Homo sapiens: one gene and its partners. The protein of the gene in region 1 purifies or fractionates together with the protein of each later gene. This does not show direct contact. Each region holds a gene or a part of one and is shown on either strand. Other genes may lie near its edges.

Evidence for each region. Proteins that work in one complex are often made in the same cells at the same time.
Region 2: the proteins of INSRR (region 1) and ARHGEF40 purify together in Homo sapiens (affinity purification with mass spectrometry; one large-scale study listed by BioGRID and IntAct). This does not show direct contact.
Region 3: the proteins of INSRR (region 1) and ACVR1 purify together in Homo sapiens (affinity purification with mass spectrometry; one large-scale study listed by BioGRID and IntAct). This does not show direct contact.
Region 4: the proteins of INSRR (region 1) and SETD1A purify together in Homo sapiens (affinity purification with mass spectrometry; one large-scale study listed by BioGRID and IntAct). This does not show direct contact.

The regions. Positions count from the first base shown.
Region 1 is NC_000001.11:156,849,118-156,852,617, forward strand, and holds part of INSRR (insulin receptor-related protein precursor), read right to left. Parts: intron 3,075-3,500; coding exon 2,771-3,074; intron 2,672-2,770; coding exon 2,529-2,671; intron 2,318-2,528; coding exon 2,173-2,317; intron 344-2,172; coding exon 129-343; intron 1-128. UniProt on the Homo sapiens protein: Receptor with tyrosine-protein kinase activity. Functions as a pH sensing receptor which is activated by increased extracellular pH. Activates an intracellular signaling pathway that involves IRS1 and AKT1/PKB.
Region 2 is NC_000014.9:21,069,030-21,073,103, forward strand, and holds the start of ARHGEF40 (rho guanine nucleotide exchange factor 40), read left to right. Parts: upstream 1-1,274; 5' UTR 1,275-1,367; coding exon 1,368-1,370; intron 1,371-1,798; coding exon of another isoform or gene 1,799-1,822; exon of another isoform or gene 1,823-1,843; intron 1,844-4,015; coding exon 4,016-4,074. UniProt on the Homo sapiens protein: May act as a guanine nucleotide exchange factor (GEF).
Region 3 is NC_000002.12:157,778,831-157,782,330, forward strand, and holds part of ACVR1 (activin receptor type-1 precursor), read right to left. Parts: intron 1,771-3,500; coding exon 1,507-1,770; intron 1-1,506. UniProt on the Homo sapiens protein: Bone morphogenetic protein (BMP) type I receptor that is involved in a wide variety of biological processes, including bone, heart, cartilage, nervous, and reproductive system development and regulation.
Region 4 is NC_000016.10:30,964,254-30,967,753, forward strand, and holds part of SETD1A (histone-lysine N-methyltransferase SETD1A), read left to right. Parts: coding exon 1-70; intron 71-358; coding exon 359-1,208; intron 1,209-1,347; coding exon 1,348-2,133; intron 2,134-2,566; coding exon of another isoform or gene 2,567-2,630; coding exon 2,631-2,807; intron 2,808-3,247; coding exon 3,248-3,335; intron 3,336-3,500. UniProt on the Homo sapiens protein: Histone methyltransferase that catalyzes methyl group transfer from S-adenosyl-L-methionine to the epsilon-amino group of 'Lys-4' of histone H3 (H3K4) via a non-processive mechanism.

The DNA of each region.
Region 1 (3,500 bases):
CATCCCATTCCCAGTGAGACCTCTGAGGAGAACTTCTCAGAGTGTCCCCCTCGAGCTTTCTCCCTCCCCCGGGTGTGCGTGTCTAGTGTGTGGCCGCGTGTCCACCGGCACTGGGGTTGGGGTCTCACAGGCGGCGCGGTCTCCGTTGGTGCGGGGGTTGATCTCAGCCTTGTTCTGCCGACCTCGCGTGCCTGTCACCTCCTCCAGTCGGTAGATGTGTTCCAAGCAGAGGCGCGGGTTGAAGGCGAAGTAGATCTTGCCCACGGGAATGGTGAGCCCCGCGGCCACCCAGGACCCTAGCTGTTGTAGGTTCTGGTTGTCCAGCACGTAGAGAGTGTAGTTCCTGGGGGAGGCCAGGGGACCTTGCTCTGCGGGGAGGTGGGGGCAGGGGGTGGGAAAGGGGATGGCTTATGGGTTCCTCCTGGAAGGGTTTTGCTGGGCCCGGGGAGAGGGGCACTCAGTGGCTGGCTCACACCAGCACACCGGGGGCATTCGTGCATACCCACTCTGTGCCACTGACCAGGAGTATGATGTCTGCCAAGTCACCCCATCTTTTGGTTTTCCTCATCAGTGAAATGGGGTCCTCAGCTTCCCTGCCCCCATCCTTCCCTCGACTCTCTTTGAACTGAGCACCTGCTATGTGCCAGACTCTGGAGGCTTTGGAGACACCAGGAGGAGTAGTACTCAGCCTGGGCCATTCCTTTCCAGCTGAGGTGTGGACACTCTCGGTGTACATGCAATGTGTCTGGAGACATGAGAAGCCACAGAGAGCCACTAGACTAGATGACTAGATGGTAACTTTTTTTTTTTTTCCTCACTCTGTCATCCAGGCCAGAGTGCAGTGGCACAATTGTGGCCCACTGCCGCCTTGACCTCCCGGGCTCAGGTGATCCTCCCACCTCAGTCTCTTGAGTAGCTGAGACTACAGGCATGCACCACCACGGTCAGCTAATTTTGTATTTTTTATAGAGACAGAGTTTCACCATGTTGCCCAGGCTGGTCTCTAACTCCTAGGTTCAAGTGATCCTCCCACCTCGGCTTGCCAAAGTGCTAGGATTACAGGCACGAGCCACCGCATCTGGCCTGGTTGGTTATTTATTTATGTATGTTTTGAGCTGGAGTCTCCCTCTGTCACCCAGGCTGCAGTGTAGTGGCACGATCTCAGCTCAGTGTAACCCCTGTCTCCCAGGTTCAAGTGATTCTCCTGCCTCAGCCTCCTGAGTAGCTGGGACTACAGGTGCCCACCACCACACCTGGCTAATTTTTGTATTTTTAGTAGAGATGGGTTTTCTCCATGTTGGCCAGGCTGGTCTTGAACTCCTGACCGCATGGTGATCCTCCTGCCTTGCCCTCCCAAAGTGCAGAGATTACAGGCAGGAGCCACCGTGCCCGACCTGGATGGTAATTTAAAACATTCTTTTTTTTTTTTTTTTTTTTTTTTTTTTTTTGAGATGGAGTCCCTCTCTGTAACTCAGGCCCTAGGCTGGAGTGCAGTGGCACGATTTCGGCTCACTGTAATCTCTACCTTCTGGGTTCAAACAATTCTCCTGCCTCAGCCTCCCAAGTAGCTGGGATTAAAGGCACGTGCCACCATGCCCATCTACTTTTTTTGTATTTTTAGTAAAGATGGGGTTTCACCACGTTGGCCAGGCTGGTCTTGAATTCCTGACCTCAAGTGATCCACCCGCCTCAGCCTCCCAAAGTGCAGGGATTACAGGTGTGAGCCACCGTGCCTGGCTCATTCTTTTTATTTTAAAAAATGCTGGCTACATTATAGGTAGGCCTTGACTGGCAGATGATAGGAATGGGTTTCAAACCCAGGCAGTCTTGCTCTGCAGCTGACAGGACCAGATGATGACAATTATAGCCAACTGTTATAGAGTTATATGTGACTGTAATTTATATTGTATATACTGTGTTCCAGGCATTGTTTTATGTGCTTTACACATAACAACTTGAGTAATATTCAAAACAGTCCTGAGAAGTAAGTAATGTTATATTAGCCCTATTTTACAGATGAGAAAACTGAAGACCAGAGAAGTTAACCTACTTAGAGTCACACGCCTAGTGAGTAGCAAAATTGGTTCCAGAGCCCATTCTCTTCACCACTGTTCTGGGAGTGTTGGAGGAAGGAGTGTAATAGAAGGAGCTGGTCAGAGGCCTAACCCTTACCCATCCACCATGGCGTCTCCCCGGATTAGTTTGAGGTTCTTGAAAAAGCCCAGGGACACGAGGGCAAAGGAGTGCTTGATTTTGAGGAAGCCAGTAATGGTTTCTACCAGCCCCAGGCTGTGCTGCAGCTGTGGCTCCAGGTTGTCTAGGGATGGGAAGACAGGGCTGGAGTAGGAGCAAGGAAGGTGATGGGTCTGTGGGGCAAGGGGGCTGAATGGGGGCCCCGGGAAGGTGGGCCCTCAGGACTGGGACCCAGGATGATGGAAAATTGTGCTGAGTTGGGTCATTGTAAGGGTTGTGTCTGGGAGGAAGGGTATGACCAGGAGGAGGGGTGTGGCCCCAAAGTAGGTACTGACAGCCCTGGCGAAGGTTGAGGATGAGGCTTCCCTCCACATGCGTGCAGCCCACAAGATCCTGTGCCGCCTGGATGGAGTCGATGGTCTTGGTGCCTACCTTGCACTCTTTAGGGCACAGCCCCTCGCACTTGTGGCAGAATATGCTAGCAGGAGCAAGCAGATGTCCTGAGCCTTGGACCAGTTTGGGCCTCCTCAGGCCTCCTCACTGCTCCCAGGGTGCCCCCCACCCTCCCTACACTCACCTGCTGCTATTACGGGTGAAGCCAGAAGGGCACTGGGCCAGGCAACTGCCCTGGTGTATGCCGAAGGTGGAGGCACGGCCGGGCACAGAGTGCAGGCTGGCACAGCGCTCAGCTGTGACACAGCGCCAGGACTCATACTGGTAGGTGCCTGGCGGGCAGGCCCACAGGCAGGCACCCTGGAAGTAGAGGTGGCGGCAAGCTACACAGGCACGAGGGTCTTCTGGCTGGCTGCAGCCCCCCAGGCATTCGGTGTGGCAGCACTCGCCCCTCGCTGTGCAAGCCATCCCATGGGGGCAGGGGCACACTGTGGGGAGAGTGGTGTGTTAGACGTTGGCCATGCCCCCTCAGTCCTGGCTGTCCTTCCAATGCTGGCCCCACCCTGTTTCTCTTGGGATGACACTCAATCTGCACCCAGGTCCCTCCCATTCAGATGACACTGGTTGCCGACTCTGTTCCCCTCCGATGGGATTCTTGAGGACAAGGACTGTGGCCGTCTGTGGCTCCCCACCTCCCACAGTGCCTAGTCGGGGGTGTCAGAGCTCAGGACAGAGCAGTGACCTTGTCCATCAGGGTTGTTGCTCTCCAGCCTGCTGTCCTGTCTATCCTATCTAGGCCTGGTGCCCAGATCATGGCTGGGCATGGTGCCAGGGTGAGCGGGCCAGCCTCTCCTGAGCAGCTAGGCCCAGGGGCCTGGGAGTGTGTGCAGGGAGGGGCCGACATCTGTCGTTTT
Region 2 (4,074 bases), on another chromosome or scaffold:
GCAGGGGCACACGCGTTCACGCCCCTCCGGGGACTATTCGGCTTTCCGATCTCCTCTCCTCTCCCTTCCGTCCACCCTTTAGAAGAGCTCACGGAGCTGCGGGGCTTCCCGGTGCCTGCTCAGAGGCCAGGCAGGGCATCTCCCCGCCGTGCCCGTGCCTCCCCCCGGGCTCCTGGGAGACCCCCCATCTGGCCTTCCTTTCTCATTCAGACACTGTCGGGGGACGCTCGGGGTTTGATGAGGGAGTGAGGCTAGAACTTTCGTAACTAGCCCACCCTGCTTTGTCTCCTGCGCCAGATACCCACCCATTCCCATGGCCACGAGCCCTAGCGGCCCTGCGGGACTCTATAGCCACCCCAACAGAAGGAAGGGGCTGGCATCCAGTACCGAATCCTCGAACTGGAGGCCTGGTGCCTTCCCTCTTCTAGCCGAATAGAGAGGTAGGGATGCGGAAGGGAAGGGCCACGGAGGAGAGAACTCAGAAAATGTCCGGCGAAATGCACGCCCCTACATAAGCATCCCGATCCGGGAACCCTGCCCCCTTGGCCAGGATGTCCGCCCCCTATCCCAAGCCTTCGCTGCTCCCTAACTCCCGCACACTCCCGCCTTCCCCAGGCAACACAGAGGAGCCCATTGTCAGCCCAGAGATTCCAGGCCCGAGGAGATGGAGGGAAAGGAGGGCGGGCAAGCCCCCGGGGGGTTGGGGAATCCCCTGATTTCCCGGCCCTCCGCTCTCTGCTAGGCAGGCAGGGGCCTGAAGGTCTCATTTGAGCCCTGGGTCCTGCCAAAGTCTAGAAACCGTTGAGAGAAGAGGATCCCGGGCGAGTTAGAGCGGGGAGGCTTTCCAGCCGCAGGAAGACCCCAGTTCTGGGAAGGGGCGGCCCAAGGGAATTCACGCACGCCCCAGCCTTTGGAGCATCCCTTGCCGAGGCTAAACTGATCCCGCGGGGAGCGAGGCCGTGGCGGGAAAAGAGGGGCATCCTCGGCTGGGCGGGCCTCCGAGGGTCAGGGTCGAGGTTACCCGCTGGAGGGCGGGGCGGAGAAGAAAGAAGGTTGCCGGTGAACGGGACGGATAGGCTGGGGACGCCCGGGGAACGGCAGAGATCTCGGCGCGGGAGACAGAGTCCCGGCAAGGGGTCCCGCGCGGAGGCGGGGGCGGGCGCTGAAGGGCGGGGCGGGGAGGGGCGGCCGTCTCGGCCCTCCCTGGCGGGGCCCCGCGGCCTGGAAGCCGGAGCGGGCCGAGCCGCCACCGCGGCCGGAGCTGTCCCTTAGCCAGACCCGGCGAGACACGAGCGGCGGGAGGGAGGCGGTGGCGCGCCCGGCCCCGCCCGCCCGACCAAGCGTCGGACGCGGCCCGGCGCCGAGCCATGGTGAGTCCAGCGTCGCAGCCCCCTGGGTCCCCTCGGCCTTCGCGCAGCCCGCTCCGGGCCCCCAAGTCCTCAGCCTGGTGCCTCCCGAGCCTGCCTCGGACTGTTCGGCCCCTCTGGGACTCTCCTCCCTCCCATCCCCCCTTCTTCGATTTGTCTGTCTGCCCGACTGTTTAGCTCTGTCCCCACCGGGTATTGCCCTCACCCTTTCTTCCTCCTCTCCTCCGCCTCCTCCCCCATCCTCCCTTGGGTCTCTCCCCTAATCCACACACCTCCCCGCTCCCCGCCCTCCTCTGTCCTGACCTGTGCCTTCCTTTCCTGGAGCTTCCCTCCCCCTCCTGGTCCGAGCTCCTTACCCGCGGGAGACCCCTGCGGGTTGGTCCTGCAGCGACCCTGGAAGAGGCCCGGCCCCTCGGGTCATGAGAACTGACCTGCATGGAACCACCATTTTCCATCCCTGTCCCCAACCCGGTGAGGCAGGCCCACCCATCCGGCCCTAGGGGACTGGCCACAGCTGTGGCTGGGCCGGGTCCCGGGGCATGGCCAAAGAGGGAAATTCCCGCAGAGAAAAAGAGCTGCCTCAGGATAGTTGGGGGTGCTTGGGGGGGAGCTCACAGTACCAGGGGGCGTGACACTGCCAGAGCCGACCAGAGTTTGCGGAGGAGGAAAGTGCCCCAGAGCTCTTGCTGCAGGGAACTGAAGGGCTGCCTCAGGGCACTCCTGCTACAGAGGGGAGGGAACACGAGCCGGAGCTCCCTGCAGGGACTAGGGGACCCTGGCAGCAGCAACTTGGGGCGCTGGACGCTGGAGGGTACGCTAAGGAGAAGCCCACACCAACAGGAGTGAACACTGCCCTGGGAACTTTCACTGCAGAGTACTCTGAAGCACCGCTGCGAGAGTGGGCACTGCCAGAGAGAGCGCCCACTGCAAAGAGGGCGGGGGCATGGCCAAGGGGCCGCTCGCTGCAGAGTGGAGGAGGGGGAGAGGCCTTGCCAGGGGGAGCTCACCGCAGGGAGTGGAGGAGGGGCAGGGGCACTACTGGGGCCGCCCCTCTACGGAGGGAAGGGCACCCTCTGGCAGGGAGGCTGGAGGAAAAAGAAAGAGGAACTGGGCCAGGGAGAGCTGACTCAGTCTCTCTGGTCTCCTCTCTGGTCCCCGCCGGCAGGAGGCTGGGTCTCCGTGCTCCCGCCCGCCGCCTCCCTCCCCAGACCCCTCCTCCCCTCCTGCCGCGGCCGTTTCCTGTGGCTGAGACTCTCGCTCAGCCATGAGCTCACCGCCCCTAATGGGTTGCAGCTGCCTCGCTGCTCAAGCCCTAGCTCCGCACTCCCTGCCTTGGAGCAGACGGCCCCACTCTGCCTCACCCCCGCCCATCTCCACCTTCCCCCCACCCACGCGCACTGCGTCCGCCTGGTCCCGGGAACACTGGGGGTCTGTCTGCTCGCCCACACACCTTGGGGCCGGGTCTGCGCGCTGACGCACTGAATGTCCCGTCTCTGGAGTGGTTGCCCTAACTTCCCAGACGGTCAAGACAAACGGGCAACTCTGGATGGAGCTCAGAGAAAAATAAGCTATTTTGTTTTATGGCAAAGGCAAGGTATGGGGGTAGGGAAGGTAGAGACCAAGGTAAAGGCTGCATTGAGTATCCCCTTCCCCATTTACAGCAAAAAAGAAAAAAAAATTCCAGTAAAAGGGACTTCAAAGACTGTCTTGAAAAAGAAGTTTGCAAAGGAATAGCCCAAGGGGTGGTTGTTTAGGTTAGGAGTTGGAGAAAGACGTCTCATTGACTCACTTAGGGAGGGGAGTCTGGATGAAGCAGGGCTGAGTCTTTTTGAGACTCCTAGTGGAGGTTGGCAGAGAGAGGTCCCACTGGAATCAGAAAAGATCAGCTCGAATGCGCACCATCAAGGCCTCCTCCTCCCTTCCCACAAGTTCCTCTTGTGACTTTTTTCTCTTTCAACTGCCCCCACCCGATTCTTTGTAATCCAATCCCACATGCTCTAAGATTGGGTGATTGCTTCAGAGCCACTGTGGGAGAAGGAAGAGGGATGCTAGAAAGACCCAAGACAGTCACAGACAGTCTTTCCATCCTCCTCTTTCCACCAAATGACCATCTCTAGCATATAAATGAGCATCTCTCTTTCACCAAATGATCATCTCTGGGACATAATTGTGGGTGATGGCACCTCCACCTAAGATGGGGAGCCCTGGATGGTGGGTCTTATGGGAAGGGATTTGCAGGATGGCTGTGTGGAAATCTCCCTCATCCCCTCGAGTTCTCAGCCATAAGCTCAGTCCCCTGATAGCCCAGAAGCCTGTCTTTTCTCTCCTGGGAAAGATCTATGCAATCACCCCAACTCACGAGCACCCGGAACAGCCCTGATCAGGGGCATTCACAACAAATTCTCCCTGGATCTCCAAAGCCAAGGTCTCAGAGCGGGAGTGTTGAGCGCCCTGCCAGGTTTGTGCACTCTGGCCCAGCCCCACTCCTGTTCTGGGCTCATCAGCCAGCATTTCCTGAGTGCTCACTTTTTGCCCACATTGTACAATCGGGGCTTTGGAGAACACAGCCAACCCCAGACCAGTGCAGCTCCCAAGGAGCCATGATTGGGTGATCTCTAGGGATCTGTAGCCTGGTCCTATCTCTACAGGAGCCTGAGCCAGTGGAGGACTGTGTGCAGAGCACTCTCGCCGCCCTGTATCCACCCTT
Region 3 (3,500 bases), on another chromosome or scaffold:
CCTCTCTTCATTTACTCGCTTATTCAGACATTCATTCACTGATTCACTCCCTGGGTTCAGACCTCTCCATGACATTATGTCATCAGGCCCTGTTCTTCCCTACAGAGGCCTTACCCATTTCCATATTACTGGTCTCTTCAGCCATCCAATCACAAGCTTAACTTCCTTTACGTATTTGTTTAACTTTCCAAGCCCAACTAATCAACAGCTTGGCATACATCATACTCCATGGCATATGTCATTTGCATGAGAAAGTGTAAAACTAACAAAATGCAACGCTGAATTATAAATACTGTGGCCACGCTAATCAGATTAGAATGTCCTTAAATTCAAAAAAAAAAATCTTCTATTAAAACTCAAGGTCTAGCAGAGTGATCTGCAGATTAGAAACTTCACAGTTGGTATAATAATGTTTGTATGAATTCAGACATTTGTTTATGTCCATCCACCCAATTAATAAAAATTTAACTCACAAAGTATAACAGTAAATTTTATTCCATCAAGGACCCTTTTAGTTTTAACCATGTAAATACTTGATCTCCTTTAAAACCCTCTTTGATTATTCAATCCTATTTGCTTGTCAGAATTTAACCTTTTCCATATGCCTTAAAGTCATCACCATAACTTCAAAATTACTAGAACATGATCTTGCATCAGCTTTTTTGTTCTTCTGCCTCCTTTCTTGCTGGCTGACATTTCTAGTTTTGGATGCTCGTCGTTACCTCTCCTCCACTTTTTGGTTTGTTTCTTTTTTCTGAGTGCAAAATTAAATAACTAAACCTATTAAAAATGTACTATATGGTAAGAGAATAAATTTGGCTTGGAATGAGTTTACATAAATGTTTGCAGAGACTTTAAGATTGCAATTTAGGGCTCATTTAATAGGGAAACAGTTTCAGAGCTGGACTGGTTTCCTTAGCATATGCAATCTGTACTGATGGTAGAGAGAAGATTCCACAAAAACTACAGGGTTTGTGCGAAATCTCATCCTGCTTCAAATTTCAGTGATAGGGTCACTGGGCATCAGATATGGGAGAAGAGGTCAGTGAGCCTTCTTTTATCTCCTTCCTCATAAAACAGGAAAGGCATTCCACTCAGTCACCAGTCCGTTCTGTTTTCCTCCCTACACACTTGACACAGAGATGAGTATTTACTAGCAGAATTGTTTCAGAAATTATGAATGACATCATGGGTCAGTAACATAAAAAGGTATTGGGAGCTGTTCACCTGAGTCACAGCAACCAAGAGAAAGCTAACTGGTCAGCTAAGCTGTCCCCAAGATGGACATCACCTTGCTTACATTCCCCAAAATGCCCATCCTTCTTTTAGATGCCAAAAGGCTGTTCCTTTCTCTTCTTCACCCAGGGTGACCTTCCTTGTAGCTCTTCGCCTCTGATTCAAAATGTAGGTGGAATGCCTCATAGCTACTTAGATCTTTAACCCACACGGACCCAGGACAACACTAACAAAACCCCTTGATCTAGAAATAGAAAAGTCCATGGGAACCTTTAGTGGGCAGCTGGGCCGTGATGTTCCTGTTACACCAGTCCCCTTGGCAGCACTCCACGGCTTGGCCAGGGGACGGCGGGGTCTTACAGGTCATCTTTCCCTGCTCATAAACCTGGAAGCAGCCTTTCTGGTAGACGTGGAAGCCATCGTTGATGCTCAGTGAGGAAAAGCACTGCTGGCCTTCACAGTGGTCCTCATTACCGCAGGAGAGACCTTCACACACACACATGTAGAGTTTGGGGTTGACCTTGGGCTTCTCATCTGCAAAGGAGAGAAAGGAAGGGGAAAAAAAAAAAAAAGAGGAATTACCGTATGAGTTTCACCTTCATTGAGGGAATGACCATTCCAAACACCTCTATCAACAGAAAGTCAAGCTAAGCATCACCATCAACCATGAGGTCCACATTCTGTCACCTTGTCACCTAACCAACCAACAAATAATAATTGCCTCTCAACATAGCGATTCATTTATATAAGCTGTGCACCCTTTTAGATCATATTAGGACAAAGACTGGCTATCATCTGTCCACAGACTTCTGAAAATGAGCTTCTCCCCCTGTGGTGTTCATATAACCTTCAGCGTGATTGGCTCTAAGATCCCAATTACTGCATCAAAATAAAATGTTTTACTGGAACATAATGTTTATCACCTTTATTCTATTCCAAAAAAAAAGCTCCTAAATATATGGCAGCTATTAATACTAATTTTTGCTAGCTCTGTACAAATCCCCATCAACTCGTAAAACAAGGAATGCTGACATTCTTGCAGGTACATGGCAGAAATATACTACAAACTGAGTATCCCTTACTCGAAATGTTTGAGACCAGAAAAGTTTCAAATTTAAAAATTTTTCTGGATTGGGGAATAGTTGTATTTATCCTGGCTGAGCATCTCAAATCCAAAAATCCAGAATTCAAAATGCTCCAATGAGCATTTCTATTGAGCATTGGGTCAATGCTAAAAAAGGTTTGGATTCCAGAGCAGTTCAAGTATCAGGTTTTGGGATTTGAGATGTTCAACCTGTAATATAATAAGAGTTTGCAAGGCTGTACAATCTATAATTACAATCCATGGTACCAATATTTCCAGCTAGATGCCTAGACTAACTTTTTCACTAGTGGTAACACTAAAGTTTACATAGATTATAGTGGGAATTAACACCTGCTTAAGAATTTTTGGCTGGCAGGAAAAAAATGGTGCCAAATATGGAGAATGAGGGCACAAGGAGACCAAGAGAACCGAATAATGTTTGAACAGTAAGGTGACAGGTGGGACCACTGGAAGAATACACACCTAGGGAGTTCAAGGTGCAATGGAAAGAGGCAGAAACGGATGATCAGGGAAGCACATCTAATCACTCTGCTTAATTGTCTCTTTCTGAGAATACTTATTTGCATCTGCATTTTCACATTACTCTTTTCTCTTCCCTTGTCAGTATGATTAGTTTAGACTTGCTGGTCCCACAGTTTCTACTAGTGGGGAAGGAAACAGAGGATAAAATGTAAACAGCCAAGTCCTAGAGGCCACTGATTAGTTAGCTGAGGCCACTTTTGCCGAAGCACTGTTCATATTAGGAAATTCAGCTTTCAGAGCTCCCTCCAAAGGTCTATGGCACATAGAGGCTGCCTTCTAATCCCTGAACCCTCAGTAGTGGGTCTAGGAGATAAATGCTTCTTTCTTAAAATAACAGGTTGGGTGGCTGTGCTTTCCAGAGGAGACCTTAAGGTAAGGTCTTTGAAAATGTCAAGTTCATTTACACAGATTTGTGTGGGTGTGTGTAGAGATGTGGGTTATCTCAAAAAGAGAAAAGCATTCTTAATCTTTCTTCTTCCCTCTTCAAAGAAGTGGAAAAATAGTTCACTGCCCACTGTAATGTGGGTGCCTCGTCCCACAGAGTAAGTGCATGCAGACACACAGACACAGCCTTCTATTTATAATTGACTTGCTAGTTCCTTTGAAAACCACAAGGGGCTCATCCAAGAGCAAAGAC
Region 4 (3,500 bases), on another chromosome or scaffold:
CCTCCCAAGGAACCCCCTACACGTCTCGGGGCAGCACCCCCTACTCTCAGGACTCTGCCTACTCCAGCAGGTACAGAGCAGACCCCGCCTGGGGCCCCGCCCGCAAAGTCTGGGAGCTGCCACTGGGAAGAAGATGCCCAGAGTCTGTCTCCAAGAGGGAGTTGGAAATAATTTGTCCTAGTTTCTCTGTGGATTCAGTCAACAAATTGCTGTCCTCGGGGAACACACTAGCTAGGAACCCAACATATAGCTCTTCTTTTGGAGGGCAGCATAGAGGGGCTTTGGGCCCTGGGACCCAGTACGCTGTGGTTTGGTCATAGAGAGCTGAGTCCAGCTAACTCCCCTGCTTCTTCTCCAGCACCACTTCAACCTCCTTCAAGCCCCGGCGGTCAGAGAACAGCTACCAAGATGCCTTTTCCCGCCGCCACTTCTCTGCATCTTCAGCCTCCACAACCGCCTCCACGGCCATCGCCGCCACCACTGCAGCCACTGCCTCATCCTCCGCCTCTTCCTCCTCATTGTCCTCGTCCTCCTCGTCATCCTCTTCCTCCTCGTCCTCTCAGTTTCGTAGTTCTGATGCAAACTACCCAGCGTATTATGAAAGCTGGAATCGCTACCAGCGCCATACTTCCTACCCACCACGCCGGGCCACACGGGAGGAACCCCCTGGAGCCCCTTTTGCTGAAAATACAGCTGAGCGCTTCCCACCTTCTTACACCTCCTACCTGCCCCCCGAGCCCAGCCGGCCCACCGACCAGGACTACCGGCCTCCTGCCTCAGAGGCTCCACCCCCGGAGCCTCCAGAACCTGGTGGAGGCGGGGGTGGAGGAGGGCCCAGCCCTGAGAGAGAAGAAGTTCGGACTTCCCCCCGCCCAGCCTCCCCTGCCCGCTCTGGCTCCCCAGCCCCGGAGACCACCAATGAGAGTGTGCCCTTCGCCCAGCACAGCAGCCTGGATTCCCGCATCGAGATGCTGCTGAAGGAGCAGCGCTCCAAGTTTTCCTTCTTGGCCTCTGACACAGAGGAGGAGGAAGAGAACAGCAGCATGGTCCTTGGGGCCAGAGATACAGGGAGTGAGGTGCCTTCTGGGTCAGGGCATGGGCCCTGCACACCCCCTCCGGCCCCAGCTAATTTTGAGGATGTGGCACCTACAGGGAGCGGGGAGCCAGGGGCTACCCGGGAGTCTCCCAAGGCAAATGGACAGAACCAGGTGAGGTTGGGGTCAGCCAGAGGAGGCACCTGGGCTCTGGGAGTCAGGGTTGGGCCTAGGGGAGAGGGAAGGGAACCAGATGAGAAAGTAGGGCTTGGGTCAGGCAGAAGCCTTCTGTGACCCTCTTCTGCCCCCGCAGGCTTCTCCATGCTCTTCTGGAGACGACATGGAGATCTCCGACGACGACCGGGGTGGCTCACCCCCTCCGGCCCCGACGCCCCCTCAGCAGCCTCCGCCACCTCCCCCTCCCCCGCCGCCTCCTCCTCCCTACCTGGCGTCCCTTCCTCTTGGTTATCCTCCCCACCAACCTGCCTACCTCCTCCCACCCAGACCTGATGGGCCGCCGCCCCCTGAGTACCCCCCACCTCCTCCACCACCCCCGCACATCTATGACTTTGTGAACTCCTTGGAGCTCATGGACCGACTTGGGGCTCAGTGGGGAGGGATGCCCATGTCCTTCCAGATGCAGACCCAGATGTTAACTCGGCTCCATCAGCTGCGGCAGGGCAAGGGATTGATTGCCGCCTCAGCTGGCCCCCCCGGTGGGGCCTTTGGGGAGGCCTTCCTCCCGTTTCCACCCCCGCAGGAGGCAGCCTACGGCTTGCCGTATGCTCTATATGCACAGGGGCAGGAGGGCAGAGGGGCATACTCACGGGAGGCCTACCACCTGCCCATGCCAATGGCAGCCGAGCCCCTGCCCTCCTCCTCAGTCTCGGGAGAGGAGGCCCGGCTGCCACCCAGGGAAGAAGCAGAGCTGGCAGAGGGCAAGACCCTCCCGACAGCAGGCACCGTGGGCCGTGTGCTCGCCATGCTGGTCCAGGAGATGAAGAGCATCATGCAGCGAGACCTCAACCGCAAGATGGTGGAGAACGTGGCCTTCGGAGCCTTTGACCAGTGGTGGGAGAGCAAGGAGGAGAAGGCCAAGGTGAGGCCAGCGCCTGGGACCGGGGAGCCCTGGGCTTTGCAGGAGGAAATGGGCCTCTGGCTCCTCCAGGCTGCACAGCTCAGAGGAGACAGGTGATGGAGGCGAGTGGAGAGAGGCCGCAGGCCCTGCAGGCCACCCTGGGTGGGCAGGGGAGTTGAGGGGACAGAGAAGCAGGCACAGATGGGCCTGGGAGGCAGCAGAGCTTTGTCCTGGCTCCATTCCTTGCTGGCTTGCAGTGGACAAGGCCCTTAGCTCTCTTCAAGCTTTGGTCTTCCATTTTGCCACTTGTGAAGTGGGAATGGTGGCTATTTCTTAAGACTGGTGGGCGAAATGACAGACTTTTGAGAAAATGCCGTGCGGGGGCTGGGACAGGTGTGACCAAGATATGGAGCAGCAAGTAGATGCGTTCTGTATTCCTGGGGTCCGGGAGTAGGTCTCAGGCAGGAGGGAATGCCTGGGTTCTGGGCGCTGGGGCTCAGCCCCACTGCTGCCTGCAGCCATTCCAGAACGCGGCCAAGCAGCAAGCCAAGGAGGAGGATAAAGAGAAGACGAAGCTGAAGGAGCCTGGCCTGCTGTCCCTCGTGGACTGGGCCAAGAGCGGGGGCACTACGGGCATCGAGGCTTTCGCCTTTGGGTCAGGGCTGAGAGGGGCCCTGCGGCTGCCTTCATTCAAGGTACTCAGAACTGTCGTTTTGTGGGGTAGGGTGGGGAGAGGGAGAGGGGGCCCCCTTCCTTGGGGTAGGGGTGGTCAGGAACCATGAGTGTTTGAGTTTTTTCTTTTTTTTGAGATGGAGTCTTACTCTGTTGCCCAGGCTGGAGTGCAGTGGCCTGATCTCAGCTCACTGCAACCTCCGCCTCCCGGGTTCAAGCGATTCTCCTGCCTCAGCCTCCCGAGTAGCTGGGGTTACAGGCACCCGCCACCACGCCTGGCTAATTTTTGTATTTTTAGTAGAGCTGGGGTTTCACTGTGTTGGCCAGGCTGGTCTTGAACTCCTAACCTCAGGTGATCTACCTGCCTTGGCCTCCCAAAGTGCTGGGATTACAGGAGTGAGCCACCGTGCTCTGCCTGAGTGTTTGAGCTCTAAACAGGCCCCATCTTTTCCCCATCCCCCAGGTAAAGCGGAAAGAGCCATCGGAAATTTCCGAGGCCAGTGAGGAAAAGAGGCCTCGTCCCTCCACTCCTGCTGAGGAAGATGAAGACGGTGAGCAGGGTCAGGCATAAGGAGAAGGGGTGTGCTGCGTGGGTTCTGATGGGAGAGCAAGAGGTAGGGATGAAGGGGTCAGGTCGTCCTGAGGGCACAGCCAGGTGGAGGTGCAGGGTTGAAATGCAGCAGTTCTGAGAGGTATGGGATGCACCAGGTAGAGTT